Linked DNA regions of Homo sapiens: region 1 is linked to region 2. The links come from fine-mapping of genetic effects on gene expression. A gene starts in region 2. The other region holds a variant in brackets. All regions are shown on one strand. Distances are from middle to middle.

Region 1 (5,373 bases), 30 kb before region 2:
TCTGTAGTTTTATTGTCTATATGTAATAAAATAATATTCAATAATGCATGTTTTAGAACCGTGTAAAATGATTTCAGGCTGTGTGCTCTTCTGGGACTTGCTTATTTCCTAAACATTGTGGCTCTAGGATTCATCCACGTGACTTCTCTTCTTTTTTTTACTTCTGTGTAATAATCTATTGTAAGATTGTATCACAGTTTATTCTCCAATATATTTGGTTAAGTGCTGTTTTCCGCTGTTGTGACTGTTCAAATTTCTTTGCCTGTCTCCCAATGGCACAGGTGCAAGAGCTTCTTCAGCATGTACTTTCCAGCGTGTGTCATTCTTTAAATGGCTGTATTGACTGGCATTCCCACCCGCGCTATGTAACTGTTCCTGATGAGCCATATTCTCTCCAAGAGTGGTTATTCTTAAATTTGGTCTTAAAGTTGTCTAGACTTCTTTTATATTTTGGATATTACCTGTGCTGTCCCTGAAACCCTCTCCCAGATTTTGATTTTTTTTTTTTTTGCATTATTGTATATTTTCATGAACAGAACTTTAAAAATATAATTACTGGAAGTTATTAGAGTTAGTCCTTTTTTGTGGTGGTTTTAAGAAATCTTTTTCTACCCCAGGTTAATAAAGACAATTTGCTACATTTTCTTTTGAAAGTTGTAAGTATAACATTTCACATTTAGGTTTAGAATCCACCTGGAATTGGTCCTGGTAGATGGTGTGAGGTAGATTCTACTTTAATTGTCCCCCCACATGGATGGCCAGTTGTCTCAACTCTTCCCTGTTGATCCGTGTGTGACCTCTGTCATAACACTCATACATGAAGTGTTTGTATATTTCTGGTTCTTGACTTTCTCTTCTTTTCCTATTGGGTGATTTTTATGCCTCAAGACTACACTGTCTTATATACTCGTAACTTCCCCGTAGGTCTTGATATGTGGGTGAGCATTTCATGTTCCTCACGTTGTAATCCTAACTTAGCTGATTTAAATATTACATCTATGTAGATAGATGGTAAGCGCTTTGTACTCTTCACTTCAACATGTATTACCGTAAAGAGAGTTGACTTTTCACATTTTAAATTTTGAGCCCATTTGTTACAATTAAGTCTTTCTGAGAGTATTTTTTATACCCTGTATTTTTCTTTCTTTTTTTTTTTTAAGGTAACCGTACTTTTCCCAAAATGCTATATTGCAATTGGACTGGAGGCTATAAGTGGTCTACGGCTCTGGCTCTAAGGTAAGCCTTGTTACTCGTAAGTGTAAAAGGCCGTTTGCATTTCTTTGGGATTGGTGGAATCTTCAGACATTGAGCTCAGTCCCCTTCATTCTTCACTCAGATCCTACCACGTGTGTTAGACTCTAGCAAACAGCTGGAAGAGTTTAGATGATCAGACCAGTACCTCCGTGGAGTTGACTGGCAGGCATGTTAGCTTTTCTCCCAAGATGCCTGCACATTACGTTTACCATTCTGAATGTACCACGAATCAGTAAAATGCTGTGGACTATCCAAAATAGGCAGTTTTATGATGTATATCTTTAATTTTAAGTAACTATTATAAAAAGTAATACATGATGAACACTGAAAACTGGAAAAATGAAAATGACAAAAACATTAAAAATTACCTATAATTTCATCAGCAGCAGATAATTATAGGCTTATATTTCTTACATAGAAATGTGCTGTTTGTTAAACTTCTCAACAGTACTTTAAGAAATTATAGCAGTTCTTCCCACCAAAGGGAAGGGCAGGTAAGACCCTGGTTAACTGATTAGTGAAAAGGTTACGCTGCCTACACTTGAAGTTTTGAGTTCGTGCCTGAGACCCTGAGGCCTGCAGCATTGCAGCCATAGGGCAGGATTTCTCAGCCTCATCACTGCTGACGTTCTGGGCTGAATGAGTTTTTGTCTTGGGGCTGTGCTGTGCATAGCAGGGTGTTGAGCAGCATCACTGGCCTCTACCTACTACTTGTCAGTAGCAAACCCCCCATCCCTTGCAGCTGTGACAGTGTGTCTCCAGATGTTGCCAGGTGTCCCCTAGGGGACAAAATTGCCCCTTGCTGAGAACCACTGCATTAGAATTTGAGCTGAGGAAAGAAGGATCTTGCCTGGCAGGAAAAGTGTAACTGAAAAGTAAAAGAGGGTGCCAGGATAGAAAATGAGACTAACAAAAATAAGATAGGGCGGGCGCGATGGCTCACACCTGTAATCCCAGCGCTTTGGGAGGCCGAGGCTGGCGGATTGCTTGAGGTCAGGAGTTCAAGACCAGCCTGGCCAACATGGTGAAACCCCATCTCTACCAAAAATACAAAAGCCTGCCATCGTGGTTCATGTCTGTGGTTCCAGCTGCGTGGTAGGCTGCAATGGGAAGATCACTTGAGCCCAGGAGGAGGAGGCTGCAGTGAGCTGGCATTGCACCACTGCACTCCAGCCTCAGTGACAGAGTGAGATTCTGTCTCAAAAAAAAAGATTAGTAACCATTGCTGACAATGGTTCAAATTAACAACTGGCTTTTTAAAAAAATAAATAAATGTTTGAAACTTGGAATAATTTTAATTTACAGAAAAGTTGCAAAGATAGTAGAGTTCTTATATACCCCTAACCTGGTTTCCCTACATTGTTAACCTCTTACAGTACTATACTGTAACATACTTTCAACAATTAAAACTTCTCAGCACTCAACATGGTTTTTTTTTTTTTTTGCTTTTTTTTTTTTTTTTTTTTTTTAACGGAGTCTCTCTCTGTCACCCAGGCTGGAGTGCAGTGGCTCAATCTCGGCTTACTGCAAGCTCCACCTCCCAGGTTCACGCCATTCTCCTGCCTCAGCCTCCCGAGCAGCTGGGACTACAGGCGCCCGCCACCACGCCTGGCTAATTTTTTGTATTTTTAATA[G/A]AGACAGGGTTTCACCGTGTTAGCCAGGATGGTCTGGATCTCCTGACCTTGTGATCCGCCTGCCTCAGCCTCCCAGAGTGCTGGGATGACAGGCGTGAGCCACCGCGCCCGGCAACATGGTTTCTTTTAAAATCATCACTGTAATGAGATGATGCCCAAGGTTTGCTTCAGGGTACTCTGGAGGGGAAAGAGGAGGGTTTTGATGAAACACAGCTGGCCAAGTGTTGATTATTGGAGCTGAGTCATGGGTACTGTTCTCTTTACTTTTTATTGTTAGGTGTTTAGAAATTTTCCATAATATAGTTTCAGTATTATTAGATCTTAGAATTTAAAAGATCCTTAAATCTTTTAAGGATTTATTCCTAACATTAAGATTTTAGAGATGAATGAAAAAATAGACTGAAAACATGGATGACTTGATCCAGGTCGTCCAGGTGGTGGTGAGCTCCTCCTGACTCCAGCCCTGACCCCGTGTTAGTGCACTTCCTGTTAGACTGGGTCTTTGCTTTATTTTGACTAAAAAGCAATGAGATTGATAACTTTAAAAAAAGAAAACATTGGTTTTTTAGTACAGCTAAAAATTGTATGTTTACTTTTGACATTTAAACTGTCTTCCTGCCCGTAATTATTTGGTGGTGTCAGTTTGTGAAATAGTCACTTGTGTTCCAGTTAAGGGCTACGATCAGGGGAAGCCCTTTCTCAAATCTGACATAATGTGGTGATTAAACCGTGACTGGCCACAGCTGGGGTGGAGGTGGTCTCATGGAATCCTGTCTGTTTGCCATCGCAGCATCACCCTCGGTGGGTTTGGAGCAGACCGTTTCTACCTGGGCCAGTGGCGGGAAGGCCTCGGCAAGCTCTTCAGCTTCGGTGGCCTGGGAATATGGACGCTGATAGACGTCCTGCTCATTGGAGTTGGCTATGTTGGACCAGCAGATGGCTCTTTGTACATTTAGCTGTGGTGTGTGCTTCAGAAAGGAGCAGGGCTTAGAAAAAGCCCTTTTGTCCGTAGGAGTTGATGTGGTGTGAGTGATATATTTCTATGTTTTTAATGTACAGCATCTGTACTTTGTTTGCCTTGATAAAGGTAAGATAAATGAAACGCTGAACTATGCTAATCTGGAATTTGTTTTTATTTGCCTGAAATATATTTTTTTCTGTGAAAAAATTAAAACGTACTTAAGCCAGGAGAATGAATTATACAGTGATTGAAAATCCATTTAATTCCTATGACTTTTGTTTTGTATTGCCCAAGTCAAACTACATCACTTGTATCTCCAGCCCAAATGTAGTCTGCCTTGAAAAGTCTTTCAGCTGTGACTGCAGGAAGTGGGAGTGTTTTTATTGTTAGCTAATTGCTGTGACTGCAGGAAGTGGGAGTGTTTCTGTTGTTGGCTAATTGAAGTTATTAGGCTCAGCTTCAGTCATGTGTAAGTTTTGCAGTGTAATACATATGTAGTCTGGTCTGTATATATGAAAATTTGAATTAAACTGCAGAATGTTTATGTCTAGTTATGGTTTAAATTTTCTTAGTAGTATATAAAAGGTAAGAGTACTGAAAAATTAATAAAATTGCAAGTTAAGAAATACTGTGGGCCTGTTTTCTATATTAAATATAATCTTGAATAATCATTACAACTTACCTTTATTGTTAAGAATAACATTTTTATCTTTCAGGGCATTACTCCATTCTAACAGAGTCATAATTGGCTGGTTTATTGACACAGTGGAAATATATAAATGTTTTTGAGTATAGATCTGTTATAGACCCTTTATCGGGGAAAAAAAACTCAGTTATTCAAAAAGATTTTTACTCAAGCTTGCTTTTGAAACATTTAAAAACTTAGCATTTTTTCTTTCAAATGTGGGTATCTGAGTTACTGCTTTTTAAACACTTGTGTGTATTATCCAGAAGACTGTTAACCACCATATCATATCTAGAAGCTATAAAATATCTGCATATTTCATTCAGCAGATGATTTATTGATTTCAGTTTACCTGAAAGGTTTCAGTGATCACTTGCTGCTGTTTAAAGCACAGTCCTTTTCTTAGTTGAGTGACAGTTCCATCTCTCGTCGCTAGGTGGCGCATCCCCATTACATTTGCTTCCCCATTCTAGTTCCAGAAACAGAAAAAAAAACTGGTTTTGTTTTGTTTTGTTTACGAGGAACTTGTCACAGAGCATGAGCAGTTCTTCAGGATGGGAGTAACCCGGTTTATGTGGACCTTTCTTTCTGAGAGCAAAGACACACTTTTTGTATCCGTTAAACTGTTGATTGAGCAGGTGTTTCTTTAGAAGACGATCTTTTCTTCAAGAAGTAGCCCCTTTGCTAACTATAATAAAAATGTCTCCTGAGTCTCCTTATGTAGCTCTGTGTAGAAGAGAATCTAATACTTCCCTGTTGAGCAACCATGCAAGGTGGAACCAGGGAGTCGGTGGGAAGTTAGTAGGAAGTATGCATTGCCCTTGGTGGAAATAGGTAAC
Region 2 (5,373 bases):
GTGGTAAGCTACATTTTAGTTTACCCAATAGTGATCAACGAGAGCGCAGTGTACGTGTTGTACACGGGGTTTCCAAGTCTCTGTTTGCTTTTTGGTCGATGGCAGTGGTGAAAGTTTATGAAGCAAGAAAGGAGCGCGGGGGAGGTGAGGCGAGAGGTGGGGTGGAAAGCTTTCAAATGAGGCCAGCTCCTTATGGAAATGAGGCTCCGTCATTTTTCCCTGAGTGGCCTAAACCCAATGTTTACTTGTAGCTTCTGTGCAATGAGCTCAATATCACACGTATTATATTGGATCCTGATAGTCTGATATTTTATGGGATGTCTCCTAGATCTTCTTTGCTGACCCCAGCGGTCCCAGCCCAGATTCCAAGCTGAACAAGTCGGGCTGCTTGCTCTGTGAGCAGTGGAGTCCCTGCTGAGCTTGGGCAGCTTTCCCGAGGCCCCGCCCTCTGGCCTCCTGCCCTGCTAACAGGCACGTACTCTGTGGATGGGACCCTGAACCAGTTATCTCAATGTCAGGGGGAATTTACTTCCAAGAAACTCCCCTCTCCTCCCAACTGTGTCCATTCATTCCTGCGGAGTCCGCACGTGGGCTGCTCTTCCTCTGGGTTCCCGCCCCTGAAGGCGCAGGAGGCTGTGACCACGCCCCTTTTGGAGCCTTCCTGGGCTCAGGGAGGGGCTTTGCCTGCGGGTGAGTGTGTGTGAGTGTGTGATGCTGATGACACACACACGGCCCTGCCTCGAAGGAGGCATCTGGGACCGAATGGGCTTGGGCGTCCCTCATGCATTCTACCGACATGGACATGGGCCCCTGGGAGGGTCTGAGCTGTGGTGGAGGGAAGCCCGGACACAGGTCTTGCAGAAGAGCTCAGCCACCCCAGAAAGGACCTCAAGGGTGGGGCCAGGAGTGCAGGTGGGGGCGCTGGCTGGCTGGGAAGGGGATTTCACATAGGAGGACCAGGCAGAGGGAACACTATGTCCACAGTGCATGCAGCACTTAGAGGGAATGCCACGTCCACAGTGCATGCGGCACTTAGAGGGCAGGCCACATCCACAGTGCATGCAGTACTTAGAGGGAATGCCACGTCCACAGTGCATGCAGCACTTAGAGGGAACGGGACAGCTGGCAGGGCTCTAGCCAAGGACAAAACAGCCCATTCCGTTCCCAGACTTTGAGTCAGCGTTTAGGGTTTTGCCTCATGATGGGCCGTGCTGAGGAAACCAGTCAAGATGACCTGAACTCAGACCCCTTCCGCAGTGTCTCCTTTGTCCTGCTGAGCAACTCTGCTGTTCTCCTGCAGCCCCTCCAGGCCAGCCTCCCTCTTCTACTCAGGGCGGGGTCCAGTCAGTGCACCCAACTCCGGGGCTCCTCAAGGCTCTCCTCCCTGCCTCTGATCTGGGCTGAGGTGGAGCAGATGTGAGGAGAGGTGGGGGGGGGAGCCCCCTTCTGCATTCCCCATGGTAGGAGCAAGGTTGACATCCCAAAAGCTCCTGTCAAACTGTCCCCAAAGCTCCTGGACAAGGACTCCTCCCTCGCCATCTCCCTGATCAAACTCACCCTTCCAGAAGGGCTCAGAGTGGCATCTGGGACAGCCCCGGTTAAGGTCTCATAGACTATCTGCTCTCGGGCACGGACCGGCATCTTTAGGATGTGAGATACTCGGCTCTTACTGCTGTCAGTGTGGGGGCCTCAGCTGGGACCACACACCGCATCACAGCCTGCTACACACACGGAAGCATTTTCCCGAGTCCGACTGTGGAACTGTAATGAATCTCAGCTGCCACTCACAGCTGCTCACCAGCGTTCTCTGCTGCTTTTAGTGGCTTTGTAGGTTTCCATTGCAGAGCTCAAATTATTTAAGCAGCCCTGGTCTTGGGTATGGAATTTTGCGGTCACAGCAGGCTGGGAGGGGATCTTTTGCTGATTCCTTTGTGCACAGGTGTGAAGAGATGTGTAGGAGAGTCCTGAAGGTGGTTTCTTATCTAACCTGCATCCGTGGAAGAGCGTGTCCTGGTGCCTGGGTGTCGGGACCCCATAAGGACCATGAGCTACCCCTTTGCCAGGGCTGGGACTGTGGATGGTCATTTGCAGCCCAGACCCACGAGGTGTTTCCCAAGCATGGTGGCACCTCCCTGTGGCTGTGCCTGGCTCCTTCCAGCTCTCCCCAGTGGCCCATAGGCTTAGAAACATGTAGAGTGTGTCCCAGGCAGGGGGCCAGCCTTAAAAAATGCCAGCCCATCTCCTCCATCCACGATGACATCACCGGTACGGGCTTGTGTGTAGGTGACCTTTGGTGGCCTGATCCTCCTGCCCTCTGCCTGGCTCCCTGGGCTCTGGTGGAACACAGCTGCCCTTCCTAATTTGGTCTTAATCAGGCTGAGCTAAGCCAGTCTGTATTTGAGGAGTTGGAAGCAGGTGATTCGGGCACAAATTTGAAGGCTGATAAACGGCAGCCGTCACCCGTGCACTCAGAGCGGCCAGAAGTCCTGCTCCTGGGGAAGGAGGAAGGGCGCAAGGGCAATGAGCATGTCGCCTTGCCCTCGGGGTGTGCGGTTTCTGCTCAGCCTCCTCTTGCAGCCTTGTTTCAAGTGTGGGAATGGCCTCCTGACTCCCAATCCGAAACAACTGCTGAGCACAGAAGGCAGAGCAGGGCCCTGAGAGTCAGAGGAAAATGCTGCTGCGGGGACTGGGGAGCCCCATCGGGTGACTCCCCAGAGATGTGAGCAGGTGCAGAGGCTGGAACAACAGGTGAGGCATGTGGGACCAGGAGGCCGGGTTGTGGGAAGCAAGGCATTTGTGGGAATCCGGGTTCCCCAGTGACACTGGAACCCTTCCTGCAGTCCCTGATATTCCTGGGGCTCGTCAGGGCTTCCCGTAACAGCCCAGGATTAAGTTTGTTCTCTTCCCTACCCCCAACACGCAGTGCTGCAGGAAAGTCTCTCCCGTGGATGCTGTGGCCTGGGGCTTGGGTGACGACGTGCACGGCTGCCTCCTCGCTGTCACGTGCTCTGCTGGCTCGTCTCCAAGCTGTGCTGCTCATGTTCCAAAGTCTCCCTGGAGGCTTTAGTGAAAAGCCCTTTCCCCGGTGACCTGGAGTGTCTTGCTAGATGGAGCTGGCCAAGCCTGACGTCTTTTCCTGGCCGATGCCTCAGTCCTTATGCAAGTAGGTGCAGCCACAAAAGGCACCTTCATGGGAATTAGGAACAGAGGATGCCAGGGCTGGGTGTCTCACCAGTGACTGCTGGGCCAGGGAGCAGACCCCGTGCAGACCTGCCCAGGCAAATCTGCTCCCCAAGTAGGGTGTACCAGGGGAGAGGGGAGGGCTGCACAGACCCCTGCTTCCAACATGCAGCTCTTTTGGACACTAGGTGGGGAGGAGGTGGGCTGGCATTTCTTTAAGGCCGCTGCCTGCTTTGGACACACTCTCATGGTTTCTCAGCCCGAGGGCCACTAGAGAAAGGTAGAGGGACCAGAGACTGCTGGAGTAAGAGTGCATGCACAAGGGACAGCCCCAGAGAGGTACCGCCATGCTGCCATGCCTGGGAAATGTGCCTCATGGGGCTTAGGGGGACCATCCACAGTCCCAGCAGCCCCAGCCCCTGCACAGGGGTCACCCGTGGTTTTTATGGGGTCCCGACACCCAGGCACCAGCACACGCTCTTCCATGGAGATCCCATGGAGAGGGATGCCTGCGTGGAGGCCACAGCACTTCTACCAGACCCTGCCACCAGCAGCCAGGCTTGGGAAATGGGGTGGGGGTGGCGGCAGCCTGGCCTGGTCACCGACATTAGCAGTCACCTGCCCAAGGCCATGTGGGGAGGGAGCAGCAAGGAGAGGCCGAAAAGCAAGCTGCGGCCTCAACCGGCCCTGGGTGCCCTCCCAGCCAATATCCAGAGGTGCCCAGCCGGAGGGCCTCACTCACCAGGGCCAGGGCCTCAGCCAAGCCCCAGGTCCCCTCCCCAGCACCCACGGAGGTCATCTTCAGAATTTCAAACGTTTGTCAATGAAGTGCTCCCAATGGAGGCCTCACCAAGCCTCAGTTTGGAAGATCTGAGCAGGTGCTGCTTCCAATTGTGCTTGGCTGTCTGGAGAGTCTCTTCTAAGAAAGTCCCTGCCCCGGGGAGCAGGGGTCAGGTGGTAATATAGCAGTCACGCAGAGAGGAGGCTGGGGCATTGGAGGACAGAGGAGGAACCAGCTCCGGGCTAGGAGAGGGGGAGCTGCGTTGGGTTCGCAGCCTTTGCAGGCCCCACCCAGGGCCCTAGTGTTGCTTTAGGAGCTGGGCAGCCACAGCTGGTGGGATGAGAGTTAAGTCCTGCAAACAGCAGCCTGGCTGCACTCACTGGAGAGCGAGAGTGGGTATGACCCAGGGTGGTGGTGATGCCGACAAGTGGCTGCACCCAAGGACTGTTTAGGAGTGAAAACCAAGCAGACGGTGGGAGATGGGCATGTGGGGAGCAGGGGTGTCCGGGAGCACCCAGGCTTCTGGATGCACAGTGGGAGGAGGATGGTAGAGGGGACTTGTGGGCCCGGGACCCGTATCGAGCAGTGCTGAGTCTCTGGGTCTAGAGCCCAGGAGCTGTTGGGCTGGACATACAAACTGAGAGTCCTCAGCACCTCAAGGACACTAAAGTGACAGCAAGATGAGAAGAGAGCAGGCCCACAGTGGCCTGCCCTGCCACCAGGGGCGTGAAAACCTGAGACATTCATCCTGTTGGCCTGGCGCCTGCAGCTGGCCCCCTGCCTTGCGTGTCACGGAGGCACTCTGCCTTGAGGGTAGAATGTTCTGGGAAGGCACTGTCTGGTGTTTGGTTAAATGACAGGTCAGGCTGAGCCTTGTGCATTTATGGGAGTTGATACATGTGTGTATAAATACATATGTACATATACACACATTTATACCATGTGCACACACACATACACACATGTGTATGCATAATATACAGTCATTTGCACATATATACACATACACCTATCTACAGTACGGGTGTATGTATACATATCAATATTTATTTGTAATTTCTGTCCTCTCTCCCTCCTGAATAACCTAGCAAGTTAGACCTTAGCTTTATGCTTTATTCTTCTCTCATCTACCTTTTTTTTTTTTTTTGAGATGGAGTCTTGCTCTTTGGCCAGGCTGGAGTGCAGTAGTGCAATCTCTGCTCACTGCAACCTCCGCCTCCCGGGTTCAAGCAATTCCCCTGCCTCAGCCTCCCGAGTACAGGTGCTCACCACCATGCCCGGCTAATCTTTTGTATTTTAGTAGAGACAGGGTTTCACCATGTTGGCCAGGATGGTCTCGATCTCCTGACTTTGTGATCCACCCACCTCGGCCTCCCAAAGCGCTGGGATTACAGGCGTGAGCCACCACGCCC

What was found. PIP is the estimated chance that this variant, and not a neighbour inherited with it, causes the effect.
Region 1: its variant is fine-mapped to the expression of LINC02348 in tibial artery (GTEx, PIP 0.99).

The regions. Positions count from the first base shown.
Region 1 is chr15:101,640,950-101,646,322 of GRCh38, reverse strand. TM2D3 (TM2 domain containing 3) reads left to right here. Exons shown (of 6, transcript NM_078474.3): 5 at 1,161-1,236; 6 at 3,679-4,475. The coding sequence ends at 3,844. Among named protein-coding and RNA genes, the nearest start is that of TM2D3, 8.7 kb to the left of the region's middle. RefSeq lists a silencer at 4,881-5,040. The variant G/A (reference allele first, on the strand shown) is at 2,889.
Region 2 is chr15:101,611,325-101,616,697 of GRCh38, reverse strand. It overlaps LINC02348 (long intergenic non-protein coding RNA 2348), which reads left to right and starts at 2,359. Exons shown (of 3, transcript NR_147041.1): 1 at 2,359-2,748; 2 at 2,924-3,163. RefSeq lists enhancers at 2,014-2,530, 2,531-3,049, 3,868-4,368.